Regions from separate parts of the Homo sapiens genome. Here region 2 is linked to region 1. A link means that fine-mapping ties the variant in region 1 to the plasma level of a protein whose gene starts in the linked region. Region 1 holds a variant in brackets. A gene starts in the other region. All regions are shown on their forward strands. Region 1 holds the start of LOC124907866 (a long non-coding RNA gene). Region 2 holds the start of FCRL3 (Fc receptor like 3).

The links. A credible set is the group of variants that fine-mapping cannot tell apart. PIP is the posterior inclusion probability: the model's chance that the variant is causal. The UK Biobank Pharma Proteomics Project read protein levels with antibody pairs (Olink). The fine-mapping took linkage between variants from a reference panel, not from the people measured, so its PIPs are less certain.
Region 2: it holds the start of FCRL3, and the variant in region 1 is the best candidate, but not a certain one, in a credible set for the plasma level of the FCRL3 protein (UK Biobank, PIP 0.72).

What each region holds. Positions count from the first base shown.
Region 1 is chr2:111,047,891-111,052,287 of GRCh38, forward strand. It overlaps ACOXL (acyl-CoA oxidase like), which reads left to right. Exons shown (of 18, transcript NM_001142807.4): 16 at 1,328-1,398. It overlaps LOC124907866 (a long non-coding RNA gene), which reads right to left and starts at 2,287. Exons shown (of 2, transcript XR_007087182.1): 1 at 2,171-2,287. RefSeq lists an enhancer at 1,962-2,256 and a silencer at 1,962-2,256. The variant G/A (reference allele first, on the strand shown) is at 2,210.
Region 2 is chr1:157,699,003-157,703,399 of GRCh38, forward strand. It overlaps FCRL3 (Fc receptor like 3), which reads right to left and starts at 1,767. Exons shown (of 15, transcript NM_052939.4): 1 at 1,660-1,767; 2 at 1,457-1,583; 3 at 690-710. The coding sequence starts at 1,487.

The sequences.
Region 1 (4,397 bases):
ATCAGCACCAGATACAACTGATAGCAGTCAAGATGGCATGGAGTAATTTAGTCAGAGATGAAAGCAGTCTAAGGAATTCTATTTTAGAGTAACATTGAAAACTACAAACAACCTACCCAGACAATATTTTCTTGATGAAAATTCATCATTGCTGATATAGTTCTCTTTAAAATATCTGTATTTGTAGACATGACATCCAGGCATGCTTGAGGTCAAATCATTGGAATCAGACTGTCCCTCAGCCTTGAGGCTGAGTTTAGCTCTGCCCACCTTTGTGGGATCTGCGGGAGTTGGGATGGGACCAGAGGGCAATCAATGTCTTTATTGGCTGGATGGGTGGGCTTGGGATGTTCAGTTGGAGGACTGAGTTTTGCTCTACTCAAAGACAAGAGGCAGAACTCTTCCCAGCAGAGAGCAATGAAAGGTCATAGAGGGTAAAGAGTGAACGCAGCTTTGAGTATAGCAATCAAAGGCTAAACTAGTTGGGTTAACTTAGTAAAAGCCTTAATGCGTGTCAAATAAGTGGTTTTAAATCTGAGGGTGGCAGAGAATTGTGGGAGCATTTTCAAGCATGAAACAATGTAGTCAACACAGCCTACAGGAGGGCAGTCTGTGACTTACACCAAAATAAAAATTGGTCACCACATAAGTGAGCCTTTGATGAGAACCTGGCCATAAATATGAGAAGGGGAATGTAATTTTGTAAATTTTCTAGATTAATATTCCTAGAGCTTTCATGGCCAATTTCAATGGATTACTAAAACTTTTTTTTTTTCTCGTAAATCTTCTTGGGTTTCTCTTCCCTATTCTCCTTGAGAAGGTTGGTTGGAGAAAGACGACTTTATATATTTGGGGGAGTTTGTGGGGTTTGAGTCAACACTTGGGGCCATACACCAAGAGAAGAGTTAAAGCCATGGAAATCATGATGGAAGATTGAGATTTTTTAAATTAGCACTGTCAAATTTACAAAGGCAGGTGGAGTCTTCTCAATGAAGGTCCCAGGAAATGGAGATAGAGTGTCATCTCTGGGGACAAGATGACCCAAAAGGAAGCTGAACCCAGGACCTCCTGGCAGTTTAGGGAGGAGCTTTGCTGATGGGAATGGCCTTGTACTCTACTGTAATGACTCTGTCTGATGGGGTGGAGAAGTCACTGTACGGGGGCCCCTGACCCATGCAGGGGACAGTTGGGGAGCTCTGCCATGTCACCAAGGAAGGACGGACAGCATGCTGTTTACGTCTGTTATAACCACAGTGTCCTCCTTCACATCAGAAGGGCTCTGAGGCGGAAGTGAAGTCATTCACAATTTCCATTTCTTCCCTTCCAGTTACCTTAGAGCAGTTCTCCCTAGCAGTGAAGAGCTGTCCTGACCAAGAGGACCAGACTTTGTTAATGAAGGTAGGTTATCAGATAAAGAACTTATTTCCTAAAGGCTCAGAGCGTTTTTATTGCCCTGAGGAGAGTTTCATTTTTACAAGCGGGAGTAAATTTATCATGTCTGAATCGTGTGCTCCAGGGGGATAAGCTTGTCATAGGCGAATTGGAGGGTTGCTGGTTAACGAGCACCACTGCTGCCTGCGGAGTGCGGGAAAGTGACAGGAGAGTGGGTGTCCACATGAGTGGGGAATCTGTTTAACTCTCCAGAGGGCTCAGTTGGTTCTATTTAAACTTATCTGATGGAGTCTTGATGCTTTTTTAGCAGATTTATGAGGCTTGGCCAAATTCCACATCTCCCACTATATTTTTAATTAAGACAAAGGATTCCATACGTTCCCAGTCTGCTGCTTCCTACTTTTGGCACCTTAAGGAATGCTACACAAATTAGACTGTTCATATTCACCACCAGAATGAGCATCTTATGTCATAGATTCCTTGCCCTTGAGTGGAAGACAAGCTTCTTCCCCCCAACCCCCCGCCCCAAGGAACAGTTGTTTTATTTCCTTCCAAGTGACAGGAGCAGAGGCATTTCCAAATGGTATAACCTGCACTTAGGCTGCCTACCTAGGTGAGCCAAAAGTGTGGAAAACCCTGGCAAGCTGCCCACCTGGATTTAATTAAAACTTTGTCTTTGAAGCAGAGAGCAGTAAACAGCAGCAGATCACAAAGGTGCACACACATACTTTCCCACCACTAAGACTCATGCTTTCACACAGAAACCTTGCAGACTGACCTTGAGGTACAAATATTTCCATGATGTCACTTCAGTGCT[G/A]TACCACCAGGAAACCGCGTGCACCAGGAATTGCATTTCTTTATCTAAAAACCAGCTTCTTTACCAGGTGTCCTCTGACTTTAGAAATGGGTGGAAAAAAAATAGGGTGTCACTCTGAGGGATTTTCAACTCATTTGCCTAAGATGTGATATTTTTGGTCTTTAAAAAAAAAAAAGCTTTCAGTGATGTTAGTTTTATAATAAAGAAGCGCTGCTCATACCAAGTGTTGGGTTTGTCTGGGAACCCTGATTTTTCAGAGTCCTGGGCGTCTGATACACTGACTTAGAATGATATAGATTCAGGCACATGGGCGTTTCTTGTTTGCCACGCTTAATTCTCTGTTTCCTGCTTTAAGTTCTATTCTGCAAGGACCTTTCCTTCCAGGTGCAGGCTGGCTTTCCATGACCTTGAAGCAGCTCTTGGGCCCTGGATGCTCACCTCTTTTCTCTGCTCACCGGCCTTTGGTCTTTCTTCCCTCTATCCTGTGTTTTCTCCTACCATTTGCTTCTTGCTTCTCTCTTGTTCTTCTCCTACTGTCCATCTCTCCCCATTTGCAGGAGGTGAAGCTCCTGGGCTCCCCTGGAGGTTACATGGGCATCTCAGAGGCATTTTGGGGTACAGAGGGCAGCGACAGAGCCCAGCCCCAGAGACCACACCTCCAGGCCTGCTTCTAGTGGTCCTCATGGCCTCCCCGACTTGGGATGCCGCAGCCCCCTCTGAGTTTCTTCACATCTAGAGTGAGAGGTGAAAAGAGATGTAACCAAAGGCCCCTCCTCCTCTCACCATTTCACCTTCTTGCTGACTTTCATGGTGCTCTGGCTGGCTTCTCTAGCACATTCGGTTAGAAACTAACAGATTGGGGTTGGGAGAGGAAGGCTAAGATGGCCTGAGGTTTCCTGGAATTTGCGTGACCTCCAGTGGCGTTCAGTATTTTGTGTCTTACCTGTTGGTTTCTGCAGACTGTGTGGCCTCAGCAACAGAGGATGATTTATGTGGGCGTTTTCTCAATATTTGCAAATATTTGAACAGGCATCATCAAAGAAAGAAGTTTCACTGAACAAAAACGTGTGCCGAGTTCATATATACTGAAACTATTTTATGATTTTTTTTAGGAGATTGAGGTTTTCTAATGTCACATATCAGAAGGCACCATGTGGGTGTGACAATGGTATGCTGGGTTTTTGTAGATGTTATGTGAGAAAACCTATTCAGGGTGACAGTAGATTATTTTGACTACAGTCAGCCTGCAGGTGATTGTATGTTTGCTCTAGTGAGCTATCCACTTTGCAGACTGTCTGAAATAAATTCCCACATTTAACTTAACCTCATGAAAACTTGTTGGAGGCAAAAAACGTAGATCTGGGCCAAATATGATATATATTTTTTTGAGACAGAGTCTTCTTCTGTCACCCAGGCTGGAGTGCAGTGGCGTGATCTTAGCTCACTGCAACTTCCACCTCCTGGGTTCAAGGAATTCTCCTGTCTCAGCCTCCCCACTAGTTGGGAGTACAGGTGTCTGCCACCATGCCTGGCTAATTTTTTGTATTTTTAGTAGAGATGGGGTTTCACCATATTGGTCAGGCTGGTCTTGAACTCCTGACCTCAGGTGATCCACCCGCCTCGGCCTCCCAAAGTGCTGGGATTACAGACATACGCCACTGCGCCCAGCTGATATTTTTTAAAATTATATTTTGCATGCATTCCTGCATTGTCAAACATTCCAATGTTGCATTCTACATTGTCAAGGGTAATTGAGATCTGAGCACAAATATTTAAAGGGGTACCATTAAAAATGCAGCTTGTATGGCAGGCATGGTCCATGATTGTCCCAGGCAGCCTAATTTTGACTCAAGTCAAAAGCCCCTCCCTCAATCACATAGCTCCACCTTGCCTAACCTGAGAAGATGCTCTATAGACAGACTGCCAAGAAGATGCAAGAGATGAACTTGGTTCATCAGATGGCTGAACCAAGGTCAGATTCCCCTGCAAAGACAAAAACATTGAGATTTTGAAGATGGCATAAGCCAGAACATTCATCTGACAACCAGGAAAAGCAGGAGGGACAGGAAAACAAGTGACTAGCCACCATTGCATAGCTAGTCAGCCGGCAATAGAACTAGGACCAGAAAGCTGGGCTTCTTCCTGCGGGGCCCACTCAGATGAGCAAATTCATAGAAAATTCCACCAC
Region 2 (4,397 bases), not on the chromosome of region 1:
TCAGAAGTAGTTTCTAGACTCCAGAAAATTACTTCCTACTTGTTAACACTTAAAATGAATAAGATTTTCTCACTTGTATTACTTTTATATCTCTCTTAGCTTTGAAAGTCTATGGGGAAGGCAACTTTACTCTCCATTTAAGTTGGACACAGTAAACAATGGAGGGATATAAAGAATTTAAATGGAGGAGGATGGGTTGCCTGAGAAGTCAGACTTGTGTATGGAATTGCAACTGACTGACAGGCATGGAAGTGAGGTGTGGCAGTGGCATGAGCTCTTTTTGGAGATTTATAAGGATTCTGCTGTAGCATCTTCCTCCGTGGATGGGATCTATTTCTATGTCCTTTGATAGCAGCACTAGCTTGGACATTCAGAGGGAGATGTACTAGAGAATATGGAGATCACATATGAGATTCCTTCATCATCAGCCTCTTGCCTCTGTCCTTTGCTCTGCAAGTGTTTCCTTCCTGTAGTCTGAGGAATACCGGTAATGTAGGGAGAAAAAAAAAAAAAAACCTAGAGACTGAAAAAGTCGGAGGAGGCTCTGTTCACCCAATATAGTAGCAGATGTGACCCCAGAGCATTAGCATTGCTGATGGGATGCGTGCCTGCAAGGGTTAGGGCAGGCTGTGTGGGCTGAGGGGACCAATATCCAGAGACCAGAGGGGCAGAGAGAAGGAGAAACTTACCTGATTGTTCTCTTCCAGGAGCTGTGAGGGAGCAGAAAATGACAATCAGACACTCTCCGAAACATTTTCTAACAACCTAACCACAACCACTTCTTTTGTTTTTCCTTATCATTTCTTTGCTCCCTTTTTATATCATCCAGAGCCCCTAAACAACAAAGAAAATGTCATATAATGTATTTTACAAACGTGATGGCTTATGTCCAAGGCCTGACCTCATCTCTGCTATTATTTACTTGGCCACGGCACACTTTATTCTCTCCTTCTCTTCTCTGAGTGCAGAGGCAGACAAGGACTTACAGAAATGGTTTATCCTCCTTTCGTTCCTTGGGCTCCTATTGTTCCCCTCACTTTTTCAATCTCTGATTAAATTTTGGCTTAAAACTTCTAGAAAACAGTGATGTTTCTCAGTAAACCTTCCTTCACGTGCCTAGGTTTTTAGAAGTAACTGCTCATCTGAAAAATTATTTAGTCTGAGGCTTAAGAGGGAGGGTGGGATATAGAGTTGTGGTTTGGCAGAAGGAAAAATCCAAGTTTCCTATGAGGTGAGAAAAGCAGTGGGTGAGAAACCAAGGTCAGGATATCTGGCTTGCTCTGATGGTTGCATTTGGAGCCTCTTGGTTGTCCAGGGAACCCAGCTCTGCTCACTTCCCATCCCTTGCTATCTGTCTCTGAACCCCAAGTAGAAGCAGAGATAGAAGCTCCTTGAGTTTTTCCCTGGTCACCTTTAGGAACTGAGGCCGTGGCCCCATTATAGCCCATCTACTCACTCAGGATCAGCAGCAGCAGCCACAGAAGCATGGGCACCGGCCGGGCAGAGGGTTGGGAAAGTCTGTCTCACCAAAAGCCCGACTTATCTCCAAGAAGGAGGGCAGGAAGCTGCTACTCAGATGAGACCTGCAAGAATCAGAAAAGGGAAGAAGAGCTTAGTGTCATATTTTGCTTTGGGCTCTGAAAATGTGAATGTGGCTACCTTCCTAAATGCTGTTTGTATCTCAATCCCGGTAGTGATACATTTTTAGAAGTTGGGGCTCATCTTCCATCAGCTGCAGTCTCTCAGGAGTAATGTCTCCAAGACTGTGCCTGGGTTCTCTAGAAATATCAAGTTGTGTATTTGCTAGTATTCAAATAATTCTTTCTGTATTTTTCATATGGGAAACCCCTTCACTACCTTGTCTTCACACAGCCTTTGGTTCTGCATGCAGCTCCTAATGTAGGCAAGCTTAATGAGCGTGGTGTGAATCACACAGTCAAGGTGTCAAGCATATGCCTTTTTGACTTTCACATAAGTTGTTATGAGGCTTCTGAACAGGAAAATAATACAAATGTACAGATCAAGGACTTCCCGTAATCTCACCCAGATCTGCAAATTAGGAGATAAATCAGCAAGCGTACCACCGTTTTTAAAGCCAAAGCCCTTCTCAGAAAGGGCTTTGCAATCAAAGAGGTTCCACCCCATTATTTTGTTTCAGGTCCTTTGTGTTTTTTTCACAGTGTTTATAACAATTTGCAATTATTTTCTCTATTTCCTTGTTTGCTTTCGTGTCTTCTTTCCCACTAACATTTAAGGGCCCCTTTTCTTACCCCTTATATCCCCCGCACCTCTAACTGTTCTTTCTTGAAAGCATTCCTTTAGTAAGTATTATTTGAGGGACTATTGAATAAAAACTCTGAACCAGTGTTTCTCAACCATTTTTTCGTTATTGCTCCCCTAAGGATCTTTTTTAGACAATTTTGTTTTTAGCCACCCCCTTTTTCCATGAAAATTTAATACCACAAATATACTATGTATGTGTTTATGTGCTGCATGTATAGCTGTGTTTGATACATTAAAAAATTAGTTTTTTTCATCTTCCCAAGAGTCAATTCTTGCCCCTTTGAAGGTGATATAACTTCTGTTAGGAAGGCGTGTTTTAGACTTAGAGGTAAGCCATTCTTGGGAATCTACCTACCAGGATAAAGTTGTCATCATTCAGATACCTTTACATTAGAAATGGGAGATGATCTCAGATCAAATGTCCCATCCTCAGGGTGCCCAACCTTGGCAGGTAATGGAAAGAGGGTCCTCTTTTTTAACAAATATTATTATGTTCTTTCTCCCATGGAAGTCACCAAATTTTATCATTCTCTATATGTTTATGTGATTGTATAATGCCTATTTTTCTCATTAGATAGTATTACAAGGTTTGGGAACAAGCCTGGTTTGTTCTTCATTTTGTTTCAATGCCTAACAGAGCACTTGTCACATACCAATTTGTCAATAAGGACTTGCCAAATGAACGACCAACAAACAGTAAGGAACAGGATGACAATAGAAGAGGATTGGATGTGTTTCAATGTGTGCTTAGTCATTCCTGGTTAGAGATTTCTCCAATATTCTGGAGAAGATATATTGGTTATATCAATTTATTTAAATTAAATTAAATTATTTATTTAAACTATACCCAGTTAATCCACACTACAGGGTCTTTGTAAACTTGTAATTGTAGAGTATGGTGCCACATCTACTGAGAGGTATTCTCTGACCTCCCACATTTGGGCTGGGTGTTCCTCTCATGTGCATCAATAACACTTGGATTTCCTTCACTCCAGAACCGATCACAGTGAACTGAAACATCCTGTCCCTTTGATGGTATTCCTCAATGATCTAAGTATCTTTAGGGAAGGGAGCGGTTAGGGCTTATTTTTTATTTCTCTGAGGACAGCATGCTCATCAACAAAAGGAAGGTTCAGTGGGATATGGATAGCTTCGAGATTCAGTGTGTCATTTCAGACTAATTCAAAATATGAATAAACCTCAAATATACTTCATGCTCAAAGGTGACGATGTTGTTGATGACTCTGAAGTATTGTTTCCTGTGGTTGGAAAGATATGCTCAGAAAAGAGTATTTTGAATTTAATTGCTCATCTGTAGCCAAAAATGTTACATTTTTCTACGTCTCTCTCTGAAGACAGGAACTATGTCATATTCACATTATTCTAGCACCTAGCACAGTGCCTAACACTCAGTAGAGGATTGCCAGATAAAATGCAAGGGTCTCATTTAAATTTGTATTTCAAATAAAAAACAAATAATTTTTACTATAATTATGTTCCATACAATACTTGGGATATGTATGAGTTCGTTTTCATGCTGCTGATAAAGACGTAACAAGACTGGGCAATTTACAAAATAAAGAGGTTTATTGGACTTACAGTTCCACATGGCTGGGGAGGCCTCACAATCATGGCAGAAGGCAAGGAGGAGCAAGTCACATCTTACATGAATGGCAGCAGGCAAAGAGAGAATGAGAGCCAAGCGAAATGGGTTTCCCCTTATCAAACCATCAGATCTCGTGAGATTTACTCACTACCAGAAGAACAGTATGGAGAAAACTGTCCCCAGGATTCAATTATTTCTCACTGGGTCCCTCCCACAACACATGGGAGTTATGGGAGTACAGTTCAAGATGAGATTTGGGTGGAGACATGGAGCCATATCAGGATATAATTGCATTTAAAAAGTAGTCACTGTTTATCTGAAATACAAATGTAACTAGGAGTCCCATATTTTTATTTGCTAAATACGCCAAATCTAATTGAACAGAATAACTTTTCATTTGCCTGAATATATTAATGAATGGTTGTGTTGGGGGGACATCTATTTTCTTCCATGTGCATGCAACTCCTACTCCTGTTCCTCCTTCTGCTCCTTAACTCACTCCATCCTG